Linked DNA regions of Homo sapiens: all the other regions are reported to be linked to region 4. The links are microRNA targets in miRTarBase. Many come from high-throughput screens and were not tested one by one. Region 4 holds a microRNA gene; each other region holds the end of a gene's coding sequence. Distances are between the middles of the regions.

What was found. Region 4 holds the annotated microRNA hsa-miR-211-3p (GCAGGGACAGCAAAGGGGUGC, at 1,354-1,374, shown strand). A microRNA usually pairs through its seed, bases 2 to 8, with sites in the 3' UTR of a target mRNA and lowers its output. Matches are read on the target gene's strand: a 7mer-m8 pairs with bases 2 to 8, a 7mer-A1 pairs with bases 2 to 7 and ends in A, and an 8mer does both.
Region 1: the mRNA of SULT1B1 is a reported target of hsa-miR-211-3p. Seed matches in the 3' UTR shown: 7mer-A1 at 2,144-2,150.
Region 2: miRTarBase lists HOXB6 as a target of hsa-miR-211-3p. Seed matches in the 3' UTR shown: 7mer-m8 at 970-976 and 7mer-A1 at 1,056-1,062.
Region 3: miRTarBase lists CHAC1 as a target of hsa-miR-211-3p. Seed matches in the 3' UTR shown: 7mer-m8 at 494-500.
Region 5: the mRNA of MXRA7 is a reported target of hsa-miR-211-3p. The part of its 3' UTR that is shown has no 7-base or 8-base seed match.
Region 6: miRTarBase lists NUMA1 as a target of hsa-miR-211-3p. Seed matches in the 3' UTR shown: 7mer-m8 at 3,496-3,502.

Annotation. Positions count from the first base shown.
Region 1 is chr4:69,723,310-69,727,439 of GRCh38, reverse strand. SULT1B1 (sulfotransferase family 1B member 1) reads left to right here. Exons shown (of 8, transcript NM_014465.4): 8 at 240-4,130. The coding sequence ends at 352. Among named protein-coding and RNA genes, the nearest start is that of SULT1B1, 35 kb to the left of the region's middle.
Region 2 is chr17:48,593,059-48,597,058 of GRCh38, reverse strand. HOXB6 (homeobox B6) reads left to right here. Exons shown (of 4, transcript NM_018952.5): 4 at 387-1,308. The coding sequence ends at 646. It overlaps HOXB5 (homeobox B5), which reads left to right and starts at 3,280. Exons shown (of 2, transcript NM_002147.4): 1 at 3,280-3,938. The coding sequence starts at 3,377. The region is part of intron 1 of HOXB-AS3 (HOXB cluster antisense RNA 3); the gene reads right to left. RefSeq lists enhancers at 396-565, 623-1,294, 2,337-2,842, 3,072-3,141, 2,843-3,350 and a silencer at 3,607-3,656.
Region 3 is chr15:40,955,415-40,959,544 of GRCh38, forward strand. CHAC1 (ChaC glutathione specific gamma-glutamylcyclotransferase 1) reads left to right here. Exons shown (of 3, transcript NM_024111.6): 3 at 1-1,098. The coding sequence ends at 360. Among named protein-coding and RNA genes, the nearest start is that of CHAC1, 4.0 kb to the left of the region's middle. RefSeq lists enhancers at 285-835, 2,338-2,874.
Region 4 is chr15:31,062,433-31,066,432 of GRCh38, reverse strand. MIR211 (microRNA 211) reads left to right here and starts at 1,292; the gene lies at 1,292-1,401. TRPM1 (transient receptor potential cation channel subfamily M member 1) reads left to right here. Exons shown (of 28, transcript NM_001252024.2): 7 at 186-357; 8 at 3,141-3,315; 9 at 3,731-3,854.
Region 5 is chr17:76,677,223-76,681,352 of GRCh38, forward strand. MXRA7 (matrix remodeling associated 7) reads right to left here. Exons shown (of 4, transcript NM_198530.4): 4 at 2,344-3,657. The coding sequence ends at 3,645. Among named protein-coding and RNA genes, the nearest start is that of MXRA7, 32 kb to the right of the region's middle.
Region 6 is chr11:71,999,872-72,004,001 of GRCh38, forward strand. It overlaps NUMA1 (nuclear mitotic apparatus protein 1), which reads right to left. Exons shown (of 27, transcript NM_006185.4): 26 at 4,016-4,130; 27 at 2,993-3,667. The coding sequence ends at 3,656. It overlaps IL18BP (interleukin 18 binding protein), which reads left to right. Exons shown (of 6, transcript NM_001039660.2): 2 at 56-141; 3 at 480-686; 4 at 1,330-1,453; 5 at 1,534-1,681; 6 at 1,913-2,933. The coding sequence starts at 114. The coding sequence ends at 1,990. Among named protein-coding and RNA genes, the nearest start is that of IL18BP, 3.0 kb to the left of the region's middle.

The DNA of each region.
Region 1 (4,130 bases), not on the chromosome of region 4:
AATGCCTCTTCAAATGTCAGACTCTATTTAATTATAAACCACCTTTCCAGATGTAAAAAATTATTCAAATTTTAAAAGCCTGAAAAATTTAAAGGTTAATACAATTTAAAGACTGTTTGAATTCATTCAAATAAAAGGAAGGTCTTTCTTTAGGCCTTCTAATCTTTTCCTTTGGTATATACTGATTTCTTCTTATGGAAATATTTTATTCTTTCCTATGTTTTTTTATTTACCTTTAGGGACGGCTGGTGACTGGAAGAATTACTTCACCGTGGCCCAAAATGAGAAATTTGATGCTATTTATGAGACAGAAATGTCCAAAACTGCACTTCAATTCCGCACAGAGATTTAAAGTGTCTAAATCACACATCTGAAGAAATAAGAGATTGTCTGTAGTTGATTGAAACGAGGGCAGTTATGAATTGATTTGGGCAATCAAATGAATTTATAAAGGAGAATAATATGCTTTTAATATGTTGATTCTTTTCAATGTTATTAATCAGATCCCAGTTTTGTTCCTTTGATTCTGAGTTTCCAAATTCTCTAAGGCTAAAGTTCATTGTTAACTTTTTGTAACAAAGGAACAATGTAACCACAGGCTCTTCCTGCCTTTTTCTACACTAGTACTGATAAGAAAGAAGGGATTTATTTTACTTAATCTCCCATATATTATGATTTAGAATTAAGTTCCCCTCCCTAGTACCATGGTCCAAGAAATGCTGTTTTCATAATGAGACTATATTTCCTAACTCTGCCCCAATTTCCCTTTGCCGAAAATTTGACCCAGGACACTGTGTTCCACTGCTGTCTACCGAGTTTCAAGTTGTTCTCTGAGTCATAGCTCATCTTCCTGCAGTGCCTCTATTTGGATAACAAAGTTCATGTCCCCGATCATGTAGTTCAGATTTTGGAAATCTTTTTTCTATATCATACCTAATGTCTAAGTCTCCGAAAGGCAAACGCCTACAATAGTCTCTGTAGGATTGGTTACCTGGGAACTGGAGCTCTGTTCTGAAAAGCAGCCCTGAGGGCTGTGACCTACTTCTTATGGGGAGTCCTCTTTTTCCCAACAGACCCGTTTGAACTTCAGAGAAATCACCTACTGCTGTGTTCTGGTCACCATTTGGGAACTTCAGTTACTTAATCTTATATTTGGATAGATTTGGATACCTTAATAGCACCTTTAATATCCTAGACATGATCATAACCTCTGCAAAATATTTCCCAATCTGGTGCCCAAGGAAGACTCTCTAGGCTGAATCTCCACTCTGCCCTCTTGACCCAATGTTCCTTCTACTTATTATTACATGCTTATATCTATTTGTGTGGTCTCTGATCTATGTTTTCTTGGAACATTTATATATATATATATATATATATATATATATATATATATATATATATATGTACATTTTATTATTATACTTTAAGTTCCAGGTTACATGTGCACAATGTGCAGGTTTGTTATATATGCATACATGTGCCATGTTGGTGTGCTGCATCCATTAACTCGTCATTTACATTAGGTATACCTCCTAATGCTATCCTTCCCCCCTCCCTCCACCCCACAACAGGCCCCAGTGTGTGATGTTACCTTTCCTGTGTCCAAGTGTTCTCATCGTTCAATTCCCACCAATGACTAAGAACATGAGGTGTTTGGTTTTTTTGTTCTTGCAATAGTTTGCTGAAAAGTATGGTTTCCAGCTTTATCCATGTCCCTACAAAGGACATGAACTCATCATTTTTTATGGCTGCACAGTATTCTATGGTGTATATGTGCCACATTTTCTTAATCCAGTCTATCATTGATGGACATTTGGGTTGGTTCCAAGTCTTTGCTATTGTGAATAGTGCCGCAATAAATATACGTGTGCATGTGTCTTTATAGCAGCATGATTTATAATCCTTTGGGTATATACCCAGTAATGGGATGGCTGGGTCAAATGGTATTTCTAGTTCTAGATCTCTGAGGAATTGCCACACTGTCTTCCACAATGGTTGAACTAGTTTACACTCCCACCAAAAGTGTAAAAGTGTTCCTATTTCTCCACATCCTTTCCAGCACCTGTTGTTTCCTGACTTTTTAATGATTGCCATTCTAACTGGTGTGAGATGGTATCTCATTGTGGTTTTGATTTGCATTTCCCTGATGGCCAGTGATGATGAGCATTTTTTCATGTGTCTGTTGGCTGCATAAATGTCTTCTTTTGAGAAGTATCTGTTCATATTCTTTGCACACTTGTTGATGGGGTTGTTTTTTTTTTCTTGTAAATTTGTTTGAGTTCTTTGTAGATTCTGGATATTAGCCCTTTGTCAGATGAGTAGATTGCAAAAATTTTCTCCCATTCTGTAGGTTGCCTGTTCACGCTGATGGTAGTTTCTTTTGCTGTGCAGAAGCTCTTTAGTTTAATTAGATCCCATTTGTCAATTTTGGCTTTTGTTGCCATTGCTTTTGGTGTTTTAGACATGAAGTCCTTGCCCATGCCTATGTCCTGAATGATATTGCCTAGGTTTTCTTCTAGGGTTTTTATGGTTTTAGGTCTTACATTTAAGTCTTTAATCCATCTTGAATTAATTTTTGTATAAGGTGTAAGGAAGGGATCCAGGTTCTGCTTTCTACATATGGCTAGCCAGTTTTCCCAGCACCATTTATTAAATAGGGAATCCTTTCCCCATTGCTTGTTTTCGTCAGGTTTGTCAAAGATCAGATAATTGTAGATGTGTAGTATTATTTCTGAGGGCTCTGTTCTGTTCCATTGGTCTATATCTCTGTTTTGGTCCAGTACCATGCTGTTTTGGTTACTGTAGCCTTGTAGTATAGTTTGAAGTCAGGTAGTATGATGCTTCCAGCTTTGCTCTTTTGGCTTAGGATTGACTTGGCAATGCGGGCTCTTTTTTGGTTTCTTATGAACTTTAAAGTAGTTTTTTCCAATTCTGTGAAGAAAGTCATTGGTAGCTTAATGGGGATGGCATTGAATCTATAAATGACCTTGGGCAGTATGGCCATTTTCATGATATTGATTCTTCCTATCCATGAGCATGGAATGTTCTTCTATTTGTTTGTATCCTCTTTTATTTCATTGAGCAGTGGTTTGTAGTTCTCCTTGAAGTGATCCTTCACATCCCTTGTAAGTTGGATTCCTAGGTATTTTATTCTCTTTGAAGCAATTGTGAATGGGAGTTCACTCCTGATTTGGCTCTCTGTCTGTTATTGGTGTATAAGAATGCTTGTGATTTTTGTACATTGATTTTGTATCCTGAGACTTTGCTGAAGTTGCTTATCAGCTTAAGGAGATTTTGGGCTGAGACAATGGGGTTTTCTACATATACAATCATGTCATCTGCAAACAGGGACAATTTGACTTCCTCTTCTCCTAATTGAATACCCTTTATTTCTTTCTCCTGCCTGATTGCCCTGGCCAGAACTTCCAACACTATGTTGAATAGGAGTGGTGAGAGACGGCATCCCTGTCTTGTGCCAGTTTTCAAAGGGAATGCTTCCAGGTTTTGCCCATGCAGTATGATATTGGCTGGTGGTTTGTCATAGAGGGCTCTCCTTATTTTGAGATACATTCCATCAATACCTAATTTATTGAGAGTTTTTAGCATGAAGGCTGTTGAATTTTGTCAAAGGCCTTTTCTGCATCTATTGAGATAATCATGTGGTTTTTGTCTTTGGTTCTGTTTATATGCTGGATTACATTTATTGATTTGCATATGTTGAACCAGCCTTGAATCCCAGGGATGAAGCCCACTTGATCATGGTGGATAAGCTTTTTGATGTGCTGCTGGATTCGGTTTGCCAGTATTTTATTGAGGATTTTTGCATCAATGTTCATCAGGGTTATTGGTCTAAAATTCTCTTTTTTTGTTGTGTCTCTGCCAGGCTTTGGTATCAGGATGATGCTGGCCTCATAAAATGAGTTAGGGAGGATTCCCTCCTTTTCTGTTCATTGGAATAGTTTCAGAAGGAATGGTACCAGCTCCTCCTTGGACCTCTGGTAGAATTCAGCTGTGAATCTATCTGGTCCTGGACTTCTTTTGGTTGGTAAGCTATTAATTATTGCCTCTATTTCAGAGCATGTTATTTTTCTATTCAGAGATTCAACTTCTTCCTGGTTTATTCTTGG
Region 2 (4,000 bases), not on the chromosome of region 4:
TCGATCTACGTCATTACGGATTAACGGCCTGGATTTATCATTGGGTTGGGGGGATGACGGGGGGTGGGAACAAGATGGATGGAAAGGGAGGGAAAGACAAGATGCAACTAGGAAGAGACACACCTGACCAGCCCCTCCCCCCAGGCTCAGGTGGGAGTTCAAACTGCTCCTCCCCTCCCCCATCTAGAGTCTAGACAGACGGCACAGGCCTAGGAGACTAGGAGGGAATCTGGAGGGGGCGCTGGAGGAGTGCGAAACGGGGGAAGGGAGCCGGCAGAATAGAGGGCATCCCGGTACTGGCTGGAGTCTGTGTTCGAGGGTCGACTAGGGGAGGGGGTCCTGGGCCCGGTGACCGCAGGCCTCAGCATCTCCACTCTGCGTAACAGGTTCCTCCTTTGGGCCCAGCGGCCGGCGAGGCCGCCAGACATACACACGTTACCAGACGCTGGAGCTGGAGAAGGAGTTTCACTACAATCGCTACCTGACGCGGCGGCGGCGCATCGAGATCGCGCACGCCCTGTGCCTGACGGAGAGGCAGATCAAGATATGGTTCCAGAACCGACGCATGAAGTGGAAAAAGGAGAGCAAACTGCTCAGCGCGTCTCAGCTCAGTGCCGAGGAGGAGGAAGAAAAACAGGCCGAGTGAAGGTGCTGGAAAGGGAGGGAGGACGCGAGGGGAAAGGCCTGTGGGGAGCCGAGGGCGTCAGAGAGACCCGGGAAGGAAGGCTCTCGGGTGGGGGAGCCAGGAGACCTGCTCTCCGGCGCAGACAGGCGGGGCCCAGCGCTCTCCTGGACGCCCCCGCCCGCACAGCTCCCGGCGGGTGCTCTGAGGCCTCACTACTCGAGCCCACCCAGCATCCCGCGCGCCCTTCCTTCCCGAGGAACTCGCCTCAGCCTGATCAGGCTTCCTGGTGAGAACTGAGGAGCGGACTCACTTGATGTTTCCTGGAAGCAGAGCAAAATGCTCTTGTCCCTGTCGCGTCTCATTTTGTCCATGTCCCCCGTGCACGGTTCAATGGTAGATTCGCTGTCCCCTCAGCGGGGGCCTTGAAGACTCCCTGATCCCAGACCTGTCGTCTCTCCCACCCCCTCCCCAAAGCCACTGGAAGGAGCACATACTACCTAGAAGTAAGAAGAGGAGCCTCAGAAGAAAACAAAGTTCTATTTTATTAATTTTCTATGTGTTGTGTTTGTAGTCTTGTCTTAGCTCTGGACGTGAAATACTTCGATGATGATGATGATGATGATGATGATAATAATAATAATAATAACAACAACAACAACAATAATAAAGATGTGAAAACTCGACGCTCGGTCACCTCCAATCCTCCCCTGCCATTTTTTCCTCTCTCCTCAACCCCCAGCCTCTCCATCTTTCCTGAGCCAGAATTCTTCAGCAAAGGCGAGAGCCCTGGCCCGCCGAAGCGAGCCCTGTTCGACTGGGAAGTTACAGCTGAGATAAAGGCTGGAGCGATCAGTCCTGCCCAGGCCCCAGCGCTGCGTTTCCCTGGTGCTGAGGCTCACAGCCGCTTCTCCCCGTGCAGACTTGGGGGATGGAGAGGTGCTGTGTCCCTCTCATTCTCTAGCCTTTCCTCGTGTATACACAGCACTAAGGGAGCCACTGAGGCCCCTAAAGCTCTCTGGCGGAGACGGAGCCATAGTCTGGGGGCCTCTGCAGCGCTTTTCTGTCCTCACCTTCGCAGCGACCCCTGGTCTTTGGCCCGTCCACATGGCCAGGTTTTTTCGCCAGCCTTGGCCCTCCGCTCCTGGCCTGTGGCTCTGGAGACTGAAAAATGGGGCCACTGGGTATCTCTCACCCTGCAGCTGAAGGCTCCAGGTGCCCCTTCCCACCTCAAGTAGCAGATCAGCCTCAAGTAGGAGATCAGCCTCAAGTAGGGGAATGTAAAGCCACCAGCCAGGCACAGGCCGAAGGCCACAACTTTCCCTTGCTCCTTGGAGACCCCAGGGCAGGAGGCCAGGTGATGGGGCTTTTAGTGTCATCCTCTCAACCCAGAATGGCTCATTCTCTCTCTGCTTGCACCGGCACCCAGAAGGCAAGCTGCGGTCACTGTTTTCCTTTATTCCTCCGCCCTCTCGCTTCCTTTCTTATTTTTAAAGAAAATAGTCCCCTCCTAATAGGAGACCAGCTGCGGCGGTCTCTGGCCGCCCAGCGTGCTCAGCAAAGCATGCGGGTCCTTGGAACCCCTTTTCCGGGAAGGCGGCTGCCACCAGGCAAATTCTCAAACTGCCTAGCTGCGAGTGAGGGACCTGTAGTGGGGCCTCCGAATGCAATAGCCGAGGAGGAGGGGAAGGGATCCCGCTTTACAAACTCTCAGACACATGTTACTACTCAAACTAAGCAGCAGACGCGGTGGCCGCTGCAGTCTTTTCGGCAACTAGGCCGCTTAGCCCCAGCTGTGCTCGGTTTCTGGGGTCCCTGTCCTGCTCTGTCACTCCCCACGCCTGGGCTAAGGACCACCAAGGAGGTCCGGAAGGGGATTTCGAACTTCCAAGTGGCCCAGGAGAAGTGAACGCTTCTCCTTCTTTTTCAAGCCTCCCGCCCAGCCCTGCCGGCTCGGCCTGGGCGCTGTGGACCGGTAACAGCAGTTCCACCAGGATGCAGGCCGGACTAAGCTCCTGGGGAAAACCCGTTGCAATAATTGTTTTTCACACACAACTTCCAACCCTTCCCCCATTTCCGCCTCCAATTCGGAGACTTGCAAAGCCCAAGAAAGGGAAAAGCAACTCTATCTTTGATCTTCTCATCCAAAGTTAAAATAATAACGACAATGATGATGTAGGGAGAAAGAACCAAATAGAGAGGCTAACCCCACCCACAAGAAAGTGGGTAAAAAGCCCAACCCCTGCTCTAAAAGGCTCAACCCTGTGGCTGAGCCTTGGCCGGGTTTCTTTCTCTCCCGGCGACTGCAGGGAGCCTGCAGGGAGCCAGCAGGGAGGCAGCCGCCCGCCGCCATGGCGGTCTCACGCCCGCGCTCCCGTCGGTCGCCGGGAGGTGGCGCGCTCTGCTCAGAGGCCAAAGCCAACCTTCTCTCTGTTTCTCCCCCTTCTCCTTTTTTCCCCCTCTCTCGGAGGCTCGCATTGAATCGGCCCTAACGATTCTCGGATCGTCATTATTTGTAACCATAGAGCATGAATTACCTCTTGAGGTCATCAGCGAGAATTTACGACTGGTCAACAAAAGCACGTGATTCCCTAACGCCCCCCACCCCCCTTCCAACCCCCCCCCCATATTTGGCCGCATACATAGCAAAACGAAGTACAGTGCATCGCTATAATTCATTAATACATCATAAATCGTGAAGCACAGGGTTATAACGACCACGATCCACAAATCAAGCCCTCCAAAATCACCCAAATGAGCTCGTACTTTGTAAACTCCTTCTCGGGGCGTTATCCAAATGGCCCGGACTATCAGTTGCTAAATTATGGCAGTGGCAGCTCTCTGAGCGGCTCTTACAGGGATCCCGCTGCCATGCACACCGGCTCTTACGGCTACAATTACAATGGGATGGACCTCAGCGTCAACCGCTCCTCGGCCTCCTCCAGCCACTTTGGGGCGGTGGGCGAGAGCTCGCGCGCCTTCCCCGCGCCCGCCCAGGAGCCCCGCTTCAGGCAAGCGGCTTCGAGCTGCTCCCTGTCCTCGCCCGAGTCCCTGCCCTGCACCAACGGCGACAGCCACGGCGCCAAGCCCTCTGCTTCGTCCCCCTCCGACCAGGCGACCTCAGCCAGCTCCAGCGCCAATTTCACCGAAATAGACGAGGCCAGCGCGTCCTCGGAGCCTGAGGAAGCGGCAAGCCAGCTAAGCAGCCCCAGCCTAGCTCGGGCGCAGCCAGAGCCCATGGCCACCTCCACAGCCGCGCCCGAGGGGCAGACTCCGCAAATATTCCCCTGGATGAGGAAGCTTCACATCAGCCATGGTAATTCTCTCTCTCTTTTTTGTCTTCTCGGCTTTCCTTCTCTGCGTTTTGGGGTGGGATCG
Region 3 (4,130 bases), 9.9 Mb from region 4:
GTAAGCAAGGCCCTGAAGTACCTGAATGTGCGAGAGGCAGTGCTTGGTGGCTACGATACCAAGGAGGTCACCTTCTATCCCCAAGATGCTCCTGACCAACCACTGAAGGCATTGGCCTATGTGGCCACCCCACAGAACCCTGGTTACCTGGGCCCTGCGCCTGAAGAGGCCATTGCCACGCAGATCCTGGCCTGCCGGGGCTTCTCCGGCCACAACCTTGAATACTTGCTGCGTCTGGCAGACTTCATGCAGCTCTGTGGGCCTCAGGCGCAGGACGAGCACCTGGCAGCCATCGTGGACGCTGTGGGCACCATGTTGCCCTGCTTCTGCCCCACCGAGCAGGCTCTGGCGCTGGTGTGAGGGGCTGAGCCCCTGCGGGGAGTGCTCATGTGGACATCAGGGCCAGACACCCACTCCAGTGCACAAGACAGACTTGCGACCGCTTGAGCCCACTGAGCAGATATGGTGGGTGGCTGGAGGCTTCTCTTTCTCAGTCCCTGCCTGTCTGCCAGCCTGCAGCTCTCCTGCTTGACACTGACTTACTACTTGAAACTTTATTTATTGCACCATGTTGGTGTGGTGGGCAGGTGGAGGGCCTGCCCTGGACACAGGGGCCCTGCTGAGCAGTGGCCCCATCCTGGAACTTGACCAGATTCCCCCCAGTGCTGCTGCTAACCCCACACCACCCAGGCCTCCACCTCCCCAGGGAGTCTCCAAGAGCCTCGATCCTCTGCTCACTCAGCCCAGCCATCCATAGCCCTGGGAATTCCACCTGCCAAGGATCCCAGCAGGCTGGATGAGGGATAGTAGGGCATGAGGAGAAGGAGCCCTGTAAGGACTGAGGCCCCGGCCAGCCCTTCTCCTCCACCAGTTCCCCAGAGCAGAGCTGGAGCTGATGCCTGGACACAGCTGCTGAGCCTGGCCTGGGCCTCTTACCCACTTGGTTGTTTTCTTGTCCCTCTGTCTGTCTGTCTATCTACTTGTCTGTCTGGGCCACTCCTGCCTGTGTGTTGGTCTATTCCTGGGAAGCTCATCACTACAGGCCCTGGCAACCTTCCCAGTCTGTCCCATACTGTTACCCATAAAACTATCTCTTTATCTGTGCTGTGCCGGAATGTGGTTCTTTCTCAGATGGGGGTTTGGGGCAAGTGAGGTGGTGATGCCCTGGAAGGCTCCTAAGAGGGGAAAGGGCTCCCTCTTCCTCTCCTTCCCTCTCTTCCCAGGAGGGGCAGCTGGGCAGGCAGAATTAGCAGGTGACATCACTCTCATGGGTACAGTTCATGCCTTACGCATGCAAATAGTACCCCCTGAGTTGTGCAGAATTCAGCTCATGCTCTACTTGGCAGCCCTGTGAGCAGTGTCCTTGCCACCAACCTGGACTCTGTCTCATCCTGCCCAGCTGCCCCAAGGAGGCTGGCAGGCTTGGAGCTCAGACCAGCTCTTCCTCCAGCTGCAGGGCCAGCGGCTGCCTCTTCCTAACAGCTAGGCCAGAACCCTGGTGTCCTGCTAAAGGAGCACGTGGGTTAGGGTAGGGTGATGACAACTTCTAAGGCAAGGCTAATGGCAGGGACCTGTAGCCTGGAGGACCTGGTGTCCCTTTTACTTTCAGAGTCTGAGTGCTCACTGTTGCCTCCGGGAGTGTGGTGTTGCCTGTGCCTTCCCCATTGCCATCACCTGCCCTGGTTTACCCACACTGGAATGCGGGCCCCAAGTTTACCCCCTGCCTGTCCCCAGATGTTCTTGTCTAGCCCTTGGGGACAGATCACAGCTCCAGGATCTCAGCCTGGGCCTGAGCTCCTCATCAGGAGTGGCCTCTTAGTGCTACTCAATCCCTGAACTTGCAGAATGGGGCAGACCCAAAATGACAGGCTCTAGCAGCAGAAGAGCTTGAGGCCAAGGGCTGGGTGTGGTGGCTCATGCCTGTAATCCCAGTACTTTGGGAGGCCAAGGTGGGAGAATCACTTGAGCCCAGGAATTCGAGACCAGCCTGGACAACACAGTGAGACCCCATCTCTATAAAAAATACAAAGGAAATTAAAAAAAAAAAAAGTGCCTTGAGAGTCCAACCCAGCCTCCTCCTCATTGCCCAGTCACCTCGGAAAAAGCCTTCAGCCCCCTGGGTACAAGTTCACTGTGAGGGGACGATGCCGTGGGATGATGTATGGGGCAGGCTGGGTGGTATGTGTTGCTGCTGTTCTTGCGGCTGGTGTCCTGGATTGGTCTGGGTGTCTCCAGCAGGGTCAACTCCGATCAGGTTGTGCAGCCGTTGTGGCTGGGGAGGGTGCCATGCCTGGGCCGTGTGCTCATGTCTTGGCGGCCTTGTGTCTTGGCCATTGATGGGAAGAGTGTGGAGTCCAGCCAGCTTCTTCTGGGTGCCTGGTGAGGGCAACACAAAAGGAGGAGGCAGCAGGTGGCAGGGAGCCCTGGGCAGCTGCCTCCTGTGTTTCCTGGGCCTCTTGCCAGACAGCCAGAGCACAGCCCTGCTCCATCCTGGGAGCTGATGGTGGGGAGGGCTGCTTGCCAGCTGCACGTAGGGGGCTTTCACCCATCAAGCCATTCGATCAGCAAGTATTTCCTTAAGCTCCCACTGTGTGCCATGCACCATTCCAGGCACGGGGATACAGCGGTAAAGAACTCCTCCTCCTCAAGGAACTTGGAGTCTAGAAACTGATGGTGACCATTCAGCGTGGAATGGGAGAAGAGGGCCTTGAGCACCCAGAAAGGGCTTCTGACTTGAGCAGGGCAGTCAGGGAAGGCCTTCTTGGCTTTCTTGGAGAGGGAACCTGAGAAGGGGCCTCTGAGGAACAGAGAGTAAGGGAACAACACGTGCCTGAGGGGAGGCAAGCTCAGACCAGCTGGAACAGAGTGGCCCGGACAGGAGACACGAGCCAGACAGGTGGCAGGACTGCCGGCCTGGTGAATTGCGCTGTGCCATGCTGCGGGGTGGCATTCCTCCTGGGTCAGTGGGGGCCTCTGGTGGATTCTGAGAAGGGCAGAGATGTGCTTAAGAGAGAACACTGGCTGAAGTCAGATTGGAGGAGAGAGGCCAGAGGGAGCTGTAGGGTGCCCAAGCTGAGGTGTGCCAGTGGGAATGGACAGTGGAGGGATTGCAGAATTGTTTAGGGGTGAGGTTGACAGCATTTGGTGGCTGGTTTGATGAGCAGAGTGAAAGGAGGGTAGAGACAGTAGGGCTGGGGCTCCTGGGACAGTGGCAGATCTGGAAAGAGTCGGGGGTAGATAGCCTTGCGTTTAAGTTAGGGGTGCCTGTGAGGGGAGGAATGACTTCTACGGGGATGTTCAGGGCAGCTGGATATGTTGGTGTGGGAGTCAGGAGAGAAAGCTGGGCTGGAGTTAGAGACTTGGGAACCATACATGTGGAGACTGGGCTTAAAGCCCTGGTAGGGGAGGAGAGGAGAACAGGGCCCGGCCAGGCCCTGAGGACCCCAGCCGCGGTGGTCTGAGCAAAGCAAGAAGAGGTGTCGGGAACAAGCGCTGGAGAGGTAGGCGGAGAACGAGGAGAGGGCAGGGTGAGGAGAGCCAGGGTGGAAGGTGTCTCCAGGAGGTGCACAACATGGTCATGTTGCCAAGATGGCCAAGATGTCAAGAGAAACGAGGACAGAAGAGTGTCCACTGGATGAAATGCCAGGGGGGGTCCCTTGTGGCTTCAGTGAGAGCAATTTCAGGAACAGTATGGAAAGCCACAAGGCAGGGCTGAGGGGCCAGTGGGAGGGGAAGCAGCTTTCAGGAAACATGGTTGCTAAGAAGAGAGAGAAACAGGGATAACTGAGGGCACAGGAGTTGCGGGGGTCTCAGGACCCCTTCACAAATGAAAAATTGTGGAGGACCCCAAGAGCTTTTGTTTATGTCGGATATAGTTATTAACATTTACTGTAGTAGTGCGGTGGCTCATGCCTGTAATCCCAGCACTTTGGGAGGCCAAAAGCGGGCAGATCACTTGAGGTCAGGAGTTCAAGATCAGCCTGGACAACATGGTGAAACCCAGTCTCTACTAAAAAATACAAAAATTAGCCAGGCGTGGTGGTGGGCACCCGTAGTACCAACTACTTGGGAGGCTGAGGCAGGAGAATCACTTGAACCCAGGAGGTGGAGGTTGCAGTGAGCCAAGATCG
Region 4 (4,000 bases):
AAACAATTAACTTTCTTTCTATTTTAATGTAACAATTGGCAAAAATAAAACCTTCAAAAGGCAGGGTAGAGATGTGAGAATAAGTTTTAGTGCAGTCACTCCACACATATGTATTGTGCTTGCTTCCCTTGTTGGTCTTAACATCCAAGTCCTGCAGGTCTGATTTGCGCTGTGCACTTTGTCAGGTAACAAGAGTGTACCAGACCATGTCCAACCCTCTAAGTAAGCTCTCTGTGCTCAACAACTCCCACACCCACTTCATCCTGGCTGACAATGGCACCCTGGGCAAGTATGGCGCCGAGGTGAAGCTGCGAAGGCTGCTGGAAAAGCACATCTCCCTGCAGAAGATCAACACAAGTAAGTGCTGGCAAAGGCACGCAGTCCTCCTGGGCTGATGCCATCACAGTGGAAACAAGGCTGAGAAGGAGATTGATTGCCCAAGGGGATTAGAAGATTAACCTTGCTTCTTGTTAGGTCAACAGAAAATGACTCACCTAGATGTCTTACCTTAGCCACCTACCAAATCACATTCACTGGGCTACATGGGGATGCTTTGCCCCAGGTTCACAAGTTAGCACGAAATAACCCTCAGTGCTCGCCATGGTGATGGCCTTGCCCACCCTGTTGCCCAGTGGTTCTTGTTCCCTGTAATTAGTTGTTATTTTTTAAGTGTTTTAACAGGAAAACAATTTCTCAAAGATTTAGTAGGATTCTTTCTATTTGCTGATAAGTATTATGTGATTATTAAATATCTCTGTAATGCTGGGCCTTTCATGTAGACTAAGATGGCCAGGTGGGGACATATCTGGAGAGGGCTGCAGGAGCCATCTGCTCCTGAAGGGGCATCATCCTTGCTGGTCCTGAGGGGGAGCTGTCACTGTCAGACGAAAGCTGAGGTCGAACTAGAGAGAAAGACGCAAACCTCAACCAGAAGAAACAATGATAACAACTGGTTAGAATTACAATAACTGGTATAATCTCTTGGAGCATGTTTATACTCCAGTAATTCTTAACGTCAAACAATTGTTAAATGATCTGAAAGAGCAGTTTGTTTTTCCCATTACTGGCAAGATTTTTGTGGGAGACCATCTAGTCCTGGCGAATGGTCATTGGGAATCATCATGTATGGGACTGTGATGCTGCAGAGTGGGTAGAATGGGGATGGCCTACTAGGAAAAGTTGTAGATTTCCGAGAATCAGATCTCGAAGAATACATTGGTCGATGACTGAATGTTTTTTGTTCTCACATCTCTAATTTTTCTGGACTTGTAAGTTTTTACAACACCCCATTTCACCTGGCCATGTGACTTGTGGGCTTCCCTTTGTCATCCTTCGCCTAGGGCTCTGAGCAGGGCAGGGACAGCAAAGGGGTGCTCAGTTGTCACTTCCCACAGCACGGAGCTTCGAGGACTCCAGCCTAAGCCAAGAAGAACCTGTTCTACTCTGTTGCTCGAAAAGAAGGTGATTTGGCCACCATATTCCTAAAGATTGAAAATATCAATCCTTGCTTGGGTTGGAAATCTCAAAGGCGGAGTCCAGGATATCTTAGTTCATTTTTCCAATATCTCCTGGTCAGGGCTTTGCACAAAGCAGACCCTCAATGCATGTCTGCTGAAATGAACTTAGCTGTAATTACTCTGGTGGACACAGCAGAGTTATTCAACATATGTAAGAGTCCCTGACTGTAGAAACACCTCATGGAAGCAAATTAGAAACTCTGAAATGGCTCATTTGAAATTCTCCAATCTTCTCTTAACCAATGCTGGCAGATTTTTATCTGAAGCCCTTCAGAGCTGAGACCAACGATACTTCCACTTGCCTTTAGTTAATATCGATCAACTAATTCCCATCACAACTAATGGACAGCTGGTGAAATAGGCTCAGAGTGTGATCTGTCATGGCCAGTGTGGCATAAAATTAGGAAGTAGGCAAATGTGCCTCCACTCCCATTTCCTTCCCATTCCAGAATCCCAACTTCCTGGAATCTTCCTGCCACCTCTTGCTTCCCAGAGCCATGCCTGCAGGTTCTGCCACCAAAAGTTAGTTGGTACCCACTGTGTTCTTGAAGAGTCCTATTAACTGATAGAGACAGAGGGAGGACTCTGGGAACAGGTCATTAACTGATGGGCCACTAGTGGTCCAAGTGGCTGCGTCCAAGATCTGCACTTTATTCCAGCCACTGAAGACAGAAACGTCAACAAGAACAGTGTACCTCATTTGTATGCTACTTAACGTTTACAAAATTATTTGCTAGCCAAACACATATTCTGATATTTTTACAACTGCAGGAGTTAAAGGAAGCACTGTGATTGTTCACCTTTTACAAATGGCTGTCTAAGGCTCTTGGTGATTTGGTGATTGGCCCAGTGTCATAAGGGAGAAGCCAGGAATTGAACTGCAATTTCCCTGGCTGGTCCAGATCCCCTTTCATCATCTTATTCTTCAGGGACAGCCATCAGGGTGGGAATTTCAGACCATAGGCTAGGACAGCCAGGGGGATATTTTTCCAGCCAGGAATACCTTCCAATATTTCTCAGTGGTCACCTTGAAGTAGCCCCAACATCAGGTGGGTGGGTTATTCAGGAGTTTAACCATATGTGAGTCAGAAAGTTTCAGACTTTGAGGTCCTGGTTTTCCCAATGAGGCCATAATATGTGACAGAATGCAAGAATGATAACTGGGCTGGGCACAGTGGCTTACACCTGTAATCCTAGCACTTTGGGAGGCCAAGGCAGGTGGATCACTTGAGCCCAGGTGTTTGAGACCAGCCTGGGCAACATGGCAAGACTTCATCTCTACCAAAAATTAGCCAGGTGTGGTGGCATGTGCCCATAGTCCCAGCTACTCAGGAGGCTGAGGTGGGAGGATTGCCTGAGCTGAGAGGGAGGTTGAGGCTGCAGTGAGCCATGATCATGCCACTGCACTCCAGCTTGGGGGACAGAGTGTGATTCTGTCTCAAAAAAGAAAAAAGAAAAGAAAAGAAAAAGAAAATTGTTATCACATGCCTGAATTCCTTCCAGCCAGATAGAACATCCCCCAAGTCGTAATGTTTTTACTCTTCCCCATACTTCAGGAGTTAAAACGACTGGGTGGACAGTGCAGGGCACAGGTGGTATGGGCGAATGTGGTTTGTGTTGCAGGACTGGGGCAGGGCGTGCCCCTCGTGGGTCTCGTGGTGGAGGGGGGCCCTAACGTGGTGTCCATCGTCTTGGAATACCTGCAAGAAGAGCCTCCCATCCCTGTGGTGATTTGTGATGGCAGCGGACGTGCCTCGGACATCCTGTCCTTTGCGCACAAGTACTGTGAAGAAGGCGGGTAGGATTTCTGACGCGCGAGGAAGGGCGGGTTCGTAACTCCCTCTTTGTCGGGCCAAGGAGAAAATCTAAAGTGGTCTGCTTAGACATTCCAAACGTGTTTAAATCAGGAAGATTTGCTAGATCTCCTCTCCCATTTCCTCAGGTCAGCATCCAGGGGAACCATCAGAGGCAGGGTGTTCCTGATGGAATTCTCTCTCCCTCATTTCCAACTTCATTTGCCCTTAGAAAGTTTGCAACAAAGCTGGAATTTAGGACAAGTGAGAATACGATGTTTGACTATGGTTACTTTTTGTCTCCTGTGTCAGGATATCCTCCCACAGCAAAGTCTCAAATCAAAGACAGAGATATGTCTGACTCATTCATATATAGATTTAACTTGCCTTGTTTTGTTCTCTTGCATTTTCTTTGAACAGAATAATAAATGAGTCCCTCAGGGAGCAGCTTCTAGTTACCATTCAGAAAACATTTAATTATAATAAGGCACAATCACATCAGCTGTTTGCAATTATAATGGAGTGCATGAAGAAGAAAGAACTCGTAAGTGTCTTGAATTTATTTCCAAACAAGCTCTGTGGAGAGAATTATGTTTCCTTTTCTAATTCCGCCCATGTGTGCATGACAGGGTTATTCATATTTTAGTCCGGCCTTTTCTGAGAGACAGTACAAATGCATACCAAATTGGT
Region 5 (4,130 bases), not on the chromosome of region 4:
TGGAGGTTGCAGTGAGCCAAGATCACGCCACTGCACTCCAGCCTGGGAGACAGAGTGAGACTCCATCTCAAACAAACAAAAAAAGATTTGGATCAGGAGAGGGCCTCAGAGCCCAATAACAGCTGGAACCTCACCAGCAAGCAGAAACCAGAGGGGTCAGGGACTTTGTCTTCTGAATAAAACAATTTTGATTCCTGCAAAGTAATATACACACTGCAAGAACTCGGCAAGTACCTATAGAATGTACGCCTGCATCTATGTTTATAAGGGAAAATTAGGCCTACAGAAGTCTGGAAAGAACAAGGGCATGGGGCAAGGGTGGGGACAGCATCAGGCATGGCCGCTGTGCATCCCGTGGGCGCAGTCTACATGTCGTAGAGCCGGAGCTGCTCCTGCACGTCGCCGTCGGACATCTCGCCAAACGTCTCCTTGTTGTCTTTCATGAGCTTGAAGATGGCAGCCAGCTGTTCCTTCTGAACTCTGTCGAGAAGAAAGGACAAAGAGGAAGAAGGTGCTCCTAGCCCACTGGGGAGAGAGGGAGCCTGTGTGCAGCCGGCGGAGTTGGGACTCTCCTCTCTCTTGTGTGACTGCGGTTGCTTTTCAGAACAAGAAGAAAATGAAAATAAAACCCACTTAGAACATCGGAGCTGGTTGGGTCTGACACACGCAACTTTTGAGGGCTCTAAAAACTGGGATGCGAAATCTCAGGTTTGCCGGGGAGGTTTGGGGACCCCAGGTATCACTTAGGTGCTCTGTGCCTCAGTTTCCCTTTGGGCCTCATTTGATTGTTGACTGCATGTCCCACAGTGATGTAATGAGGAAGAAGATAGGCTCCATGAAGCAGCTTGAGGTAGTGCTATGAAGAAGTAGGTTAGAAACAGCCTTCGTTGAGAGGAATGAGCCGAAAGTGGAGAAAGAAAAAACATTATCAGCTGGGAAATCAGGGAGCATACAAGTGTGTGCAAGACGGTGCTTGGCAAAGGAGCGGGGAGGGAAGCCTGTGGGGTTTCACTGGCCAGAGAAAGGGGGGTGCCTTTTCCTAATTTGCACAAGATACCCTATGGCAGGTGGCGGCCCTGCCCCTTTTATCAAGGGATGGGTGTGGAGGAAGACTGGCCTAAATGTTTGCTCCACGCGGGTTCTGTGCTGGGAGCAATGTCTTGTTATCTTTATGAGGCTCAGCTACACCATCTGACCAGCACAGGACAACTTCTGCAGCACAAACACCTCAGGTGGGGCGAGGCGGCTGCCGAACCCAGGGAGCCATATGTTTGTTGTTTGCTCCACTCTGGTGCCCTGTGCTCCTCAGCCCAGCCGGGCACTGCATCCTGGCTGCATCTCACTCTTCTGGTTTCTGCAGTTCCTGCCCCCCACACACCACGGGCTCAGTGCCTTCAGAGAACGTAAACCACATCACAGTGTCGGACCTCTCAGCCCTGCTCTGCAGCTGGGTCGGCTGTAAGCACGTTACAGGCTCTGCAACCGCAGGACCTCAGCATAGCCCTGGGCCACTGGCATCCCCCACACTGCCTGGAGGGGTGGTCTCCACGTTCGCTCCCATACTTTTGCTACCATATTCCTTTGCTTCACCCTTCCCTCCTCTCCTCAGCCCCGCATCTTCCATCCTGCAAAATTTTCTGTCTAGAGCAGCATCTAGTAGTTGAAATACTGAAGTCCCACTTCCCAGCCTCCCTTGTCCCCTGGGAAAGCTGTGTCTACAGTCGGTTCCCCTGTCTGGTGAAGCAGCAGCCTATGATGTGTGCTTTGTGCCCTCCTGTAAGAAGAAAGAGGGTCAGGTGCAGTGGCTCATGCCTGTAATCCTAGAACTTTAGGAGGCCAAGATGGGAAGATCACTTGAGCCCAGGAGTTCAAGACCAGCCTGAGCAACATAGTCAGACTCTGTCTCTATAAAACAATTAGCCAGGTGTGGTGGTGAGCACCTGTAGTCCCAGCTACCTGGGAGGCTGAGACGGGAGGATCACTTAAGCCCACGAGGTCCAGGCCACAGTGAGCTGTGATTGCACCACTGCACTCCAGCTTGGGCAACAGAGGGAGGCCCTGTCTCAAAAAAAAAAAAAAAAAGAAGAAGAAGAGGAATTCCCGTGAACAGAAAGGATGTGCTGAGCTCTGTGGATGGAAGCACAATCCATATGTCCCTGAGTGAACACAGATCATGTCATGTGGTTTTGACAGCCATGGTGACTGCATATTTTTTAACAGGGTGGATGTATGGCTTTGTACTCTGCTGCAGAGTAAGAGGCATCAAAATGAAAGAAAGGTCAAACTTCAATGGGTTCAAAAGGGATTTTGTTTTAAAACAAAGCAAACTGAAAAAACACACAGTAATTGAGATCATCTACTCAAAGTTTATTGGACTGAACAAAGGCTGAATACAGAGATCCAAGCCATGAGGAGTACATGAGGTGTGGTGCCTATAAGCCAGGGTCGGAAACTTTCCAGACAAACCTAGATAGCTCTACTAGGAGGGAGTCAACGACCTATTGTGTCAATTAGATCCCAGCCTGGACAAGGGCATGACTATTGCTGTTTGGGGACACGTGGCTCTGTGTTGAAGGCAATGACTGTGTGGCTGTTGCCATGTGGCCTGTTCTCCCCTAAGCCCTGAACCAAAGGTTCCAGGCCCAGATGAGAAGGCCCCTGGGAATGCATGCCATAGGGGTTGATGCTGGACATTCCCCAGCCTTCCATTAAATGAAAACATTTTCTATAAACTTACTGCTTTAAAAAAATGTTTTAACCAACAAACCTAAGAACTGCAAATGAGTTTGGTATAGTATAAATATTGTCAAATATAAAATTCCAAGAAACCCATTTGAGACTGATCTGATGATCTGAAGTTCTAACTAATCTATCAAACTTTCTAAGAAAAGGCATAGGTCAAGAAATCTTTTTAAAGCAAACATTATTGCTTCTGCTATAGCAGAGTGGAGATTTGGCTGAGCTGGTAAGAACCTCAGTGAAAAGGTGTCTTAGCAATGAAAGGGCTGAATCCGAGATTCCTCTAGATGAAAAATAAGGGGAATGGTCAAGTAAATTCCTGGTACTGGTTCTTTGCTGCCCTGTAATCAATATGGCATCTCACCCCCGACAACCAAGCCAGCCACAGAGAGAAGTGGGGTTCCCAGGGAAAGGGGTCGGCTGACCACCCTGACGGAGCTGGTGAGCACAGGTGAGCTCTACCTCATTTGTCTCTCATTCCTCAAAGTCTTCTGTGGTTTGGCTTCAGTGAGGGCAAAAGAGGGGAGACTGGAGTGAAAGTGAACTCTGCTTTTAAAATGTTCTTTTTATCTAAGGTGTGCAGGGTGTGTGGATAGCAAGTTTGAGTGGTAAGAAAAATCCCAGTCCAGGGTCTGAGCTCTACCTCTTAAAACTCTTCAGCTTAACAAAGTGACCCACAGGAACAGACATGAACATCTCTACACAGGGCAGGGCCAAAGGTGTTCCCAGGATCCTGCTAGCCAAGGGACAAGTCCTGATTGAGGGTCTAGAGCTCAGCAGATTTATGGAGGCAGCATGCACCCTGGGAGCCTGCCCAGACTCCTCTCTGGGGTTTCCGTTTTATCTCTCAAGCTTTTAAGATGCCAAAAGGAAAAGCCTTTAGGAGGACGCTAAGGATAACTTCGTTATTCTTCAGTTCTGTAAAGAGAAATGGGGAGAAAAAGATAATTTATTTTACTCATTCCATCCTGCACCATGGGCAAGGAAAGGGGGAAATGGGGACGAGGAAGGAGAATGTTTGGAATTGCAGAAGCTGCGCTAGACTCTGGTTTCTCAAACCACTGCTGATTTGCTTCTCATCGCTTGCAGCAAGACAGTCTGTGCCGCCAAGCCGGCCAGAGCTTGCAGAGCTCCCCTTGATCCCGCACAGAACCTGGCAGCCCACAGACCCTGTTCAGCCTCTGCAGGGTACTTAAGGAAGGAACTTGGGCATTTGAGTTGCCAAGGGCCTTTCTGATCTTGGGTTGTGTGGTTGTGCTGACAATATTCCTATCACCCTAGATAATTTCCCATTCCCGCTGGCTGAGTTTTGTCCCCTCGGGGGATACTGGCACCCTAGGATGCACGCTTCCAGATGGAGCCAACTGCATGCCCGTCTTTTATGAACCAAG
Region 6 (4,130 bases), not on the chromosome of region 4:
GCTACTGAGAAAAAGCGGGAGTGGTTTACCATTCTCCTCCCCCACCTTTCACCAGAGAAGAGGACGTTGTCACAGATAAAGAGCCAGGCTCACCAGCTCCTGACGCATGCATCATGACCATGAGACACAACTGGACACCAGGTAGGCCTTGGGGCTACGCATGGGCAGGCGGGGTAGGGTGAGGTCTATGAACAGAATGGAGCAATGGGCTAACCCGGAGCCTTCACTCCAAGGCAAACCACCCAGCGCACCTGGTGCTGTTGCTTTAAGAACCTGGGCAGATATTGTAGCTCTGGCTCCAGTCTAAAGCTTCTCTGTACTCTGTTCAATAAAGGGCTAAGGGGTGGGTGCTGAGGGGTCCCTCTTCCCGCTCTGATTCCCTGGCTAGAACCCAGACATCTCTGGGCTGGAGTTACATCCTTACCCGGGCAGCCCACTCTGTCTCCAGAGCCGCTGACCTGTAACTGTCCTTTCCTCAGACCTCAGCCCTTTGTGGGTCCTGCTCCTGTGTGCCCACGTCGTCACTCTCCTGGTCAGAGCCACACCTGTCTCGCAGACCACCACAGCTGCCACTGCCTCAGTTAGAAGCACAAAGGACCCCTGCCCCTCCCAGCCCCCAGTGTTCCCAGCAGCTAAGCAGTGTCCAGCATTGGAAGTGACCTGGCCAGAGGTGGAAGTGCCACTGAGTAAGAAGCACAGTGGTGGAGGGTGGGCTATGGGCACAGAGGTTCCCAGGGTCGGGTTGACTCCTGAGCGCCAGTCCCCTTCTGCCCATGTACCACCAGCTGAGCCAGCTGGGCTGAGCACGCACCATTCTCCCTCCCCAACCCAGTGTCATGGGTGCAGGCTTGGCGCAGCTCCCAAGATGCTCCCTATCAAATAGGACAGAGAACTCAAGACATAAGTAATGGTCACAGGACCTCCCAGAGCCTTGGTTGCAGTGGACCCCAAGGCCAGCCCCTCCACCCAGAGCCTGCTGGCCTCTGGCCATCTCAGAGGAGCAGCAGCCATCCAGCACTGCCTTTGTCACCTGGGCTCCCAAGTCACCGAGGCTGGGCACTAGAAAAGGTCATCCTGAGGAGACAGGTTCAGAAGAGGATTCATCACGTGAACCAAGGACCATTCCTCACATTCCCCGTGTTTAGGGCTAGGGCCTCTCGGAGACAACTGCACTTCTGTAACGGACGTTCCCACCTAGGTGGTGTGCAGAGCAGTTCTCTAGGTTCCAGATGCATGGGGACTGGGGGGAGCTGGCAGGGAGGGCACAGCAGAGCAGGGTAGGGGAAGGGCCTGCTCTTCTGAAGAGCTAACTGCTGCCTGTGTCCCTAGATGGAACGCTGAGCTTATCCTGTGTGGCCTGCAGCCGCTTCCCCAACTTCAGCATCCTCTACTGGCTGGGCAATGGTTCCTTCATTGAGCACCTCCCAGGCCGACTGTGGGAGGGGAGCACCAGGTGAGGGTCGCAGCAGCCAGGTGGGTGGGAAGGAGGCCTTCTGCGGCCTTCTCATGACCTTTCCTTCCCTTCCGCTCCAGCCGGGAACGTGGGAGCACAGGTACGCAGCTGTGCAAGGCCTTGGTGCTGGAGCAGCTGACCCCTGCCCTGCACAGCACCAACTTCTCCTGTGTGCTCGTGGACCCTGAACAGGTTGTCCAGCGTCACGTCGTCCTGGCCCAGCTCTGGGTGAGGAGCCCAAGGAGAGGCCTCCAGGAACAGGAGGAGCTCTGCTTCCATATGTGGGGAGGAAAGGGTGGGCTCTGCCAGAGCAGCCTGTGAACTAATGCCCAGCATTCCTCAAGGTCAGCCAGACAAAAAGGAACTTAGGTCTTGGGCAGAGGAGGTGTAGCCTGGGGCAAAGTGATGAGATGTCCCTCCTTTCCTTGGCCTGATCCTTGTCTGCCTTCACTTCCCTAGGCTGGGCTGAGGGCAACCTTGCCCCCCACCCAAGAAGCCCTGCCCTCCAGCCACAGCAGTCCACAGCAGCAGGGTTAAGACTCAGCACAGGGCCAGCAGCAGCACAACCTTGACCAGAGCTTGGGTCCTACCTGTCTACCTGGAGTGAACAGTCCCTGACTGCCTGTAGGCTGCGTGGATGCGCAACACACCCCCTCCTTCTCTGCTTTGGGTCCCTTCTCTCACCAAATTCAAACTCCATTCCCACCTACCTAGAAAATCACAGCCTCCTTATAATGCCTCCTCCTCCTGCCATTCTCTCTCCACCTATCCATTAGCCTTCCTAACGTCCTACTCCTCACACTGCTCTACTGCTCAGAAACCACCAAGACTGTTGATGCCTTAGCCTTGCACTCCAGGGCCCTACCTGCATTTCCCACATGACTTTCTGGAAGCCTCCCAACTATTCTTGCTTTTCCCAGACAGCTCCCACTCCCATGTCTCTGCTCATTTAGTCCCGTCTTCCTCACCGCCCCAGCAGGGGAACGCTCAAGCCTGGTTGAAATGCTGCCTCTTCAGTGAAGTCATCCTCTTTCAGCTCTGGCCGCATTCTGCAGACTTCCTATCTTCGTGCTGTATGTTTTTTTTTTCCCCCTTCACTCTAATGGACTGTTCCAGGGAAGGGATGGGGGCAGCAGCTGCTTCGGATCCACACTGTATCTGTGTCATCCCCACATGGGTCCTCATAAAGGATTATTCAATGGAGGCATCCTGACATCTGTTCATTTAGGCTTCAGTTCCACTCCCAGGAACTTTGCCTGTCCCACGAGGGAGTATGGGAGAGAGGGACTGCCACACAGAAGCTGAAGACAACACCTGCTTCAGGGGAACACAGGCGCTTGAAAAAGAAAAGAGAGAACAGCCCATAATGCTCCCCGGGAGCAGAGGCCACTAATGGAGAGTGGGAAGAGCCTGGAAAGATGTGGCCTCAGGAAAAGGGATGAGAGAAAGGAGGTGGTATGGAAGACTCAGCAGGAACAAGGTAGGCTTCAAAGAGCCTATATTCCTCTTTTTCCCACACCGATCAAGTCAACTCAGTACTCACGGGAGAAAAATAGACTTTATTTACAAGTAATAACATTTAGAAAAGATCCATCCCCGGCCCTTAAAAACCTTCCCATCACTCCAAATCCCACCCCAGTGCAAGTCTGGGGAAGGTAGGGTGTGAGCTGCTGCTGAAGGCTGTCCCCCAACCCCACTCCTGAGACATAGGGCCCATCCGTCCTGGGAAAGAGCATCCTCTGGCAGGTGCTCCCACCAGGTCAGACCCAGTCCTGGACTTCAAGAGTGAGGGCCCCTGCTGGGCCCAGCCACCAGGACAGCAGGAACCAGGGCCTACTCCTCTTATGGTCCCTTCTAGATCCAGAGGCTAAGAGGAAGACTGGCCAGGCCCAAGGACCCAGCCATCAAAACCAGCCTCAAATCTGGTTGTGATGGAGAAGTGACTTTGCTTTAAGAAAAAAGGAGGCAAGGTAGGGAGAGCGCCCACACTGTCCATGCTCCAGGCCCCCTGGGCCAGCTCCGAGAAGGCGCCAGTGAAGGACCAGGGACCAGGCCAGGGTGCGGGCAGGCATCACTGTCTCTAGGGGTTTGGCTACTGTTGGCCTGGGAGCTGAGAGAAGGCACTGAGAGGGACAGTAGGCGGAGGACCAGGTGAGGTCAGCATCGGGGACACAGGTGGGGCCACTCACTGGTACTGGCCCTTTAGTGCTTTGCCTGAAAGAGACACAGTCACATGGCCAGATGAGAACTTGCGATACTAGCCTGCACCCACTGGCTGGGAAGATCTCTTCCTGCTCCCACGCCCCTGTCTGGATCCCCTCCCTTGTGAGCCCCAGGGTTATCAGTTGCTGGCTGTGCCTGAGCAGCTCTGGGTGCTCTCCATGAGAATGGGGCCATCTGTCTTCTCTCCTTGGAGAGGAGCTACCAGGACAGGGACACCTCTTACCCCACACCCTCCAGCAGCCTGGCGTGGCCCCATCTTGGATGCTACTTGGTGGGGCGGTCTGGGGGGTGCCCATGCTCTCATCGGGTTTCCCTCCCCCATCCTGCCAGTGCCTCTACCTTGCCCTTGGCTCGAGGGGTGGCACCAATGGCGGCAGCAGTGGCGGCGCTGGCTGTGGTGGTGGCAATGCGCGGAGAACGGCGGGTTCCACTGCGAGTGTTGGGGGAAGCCTTG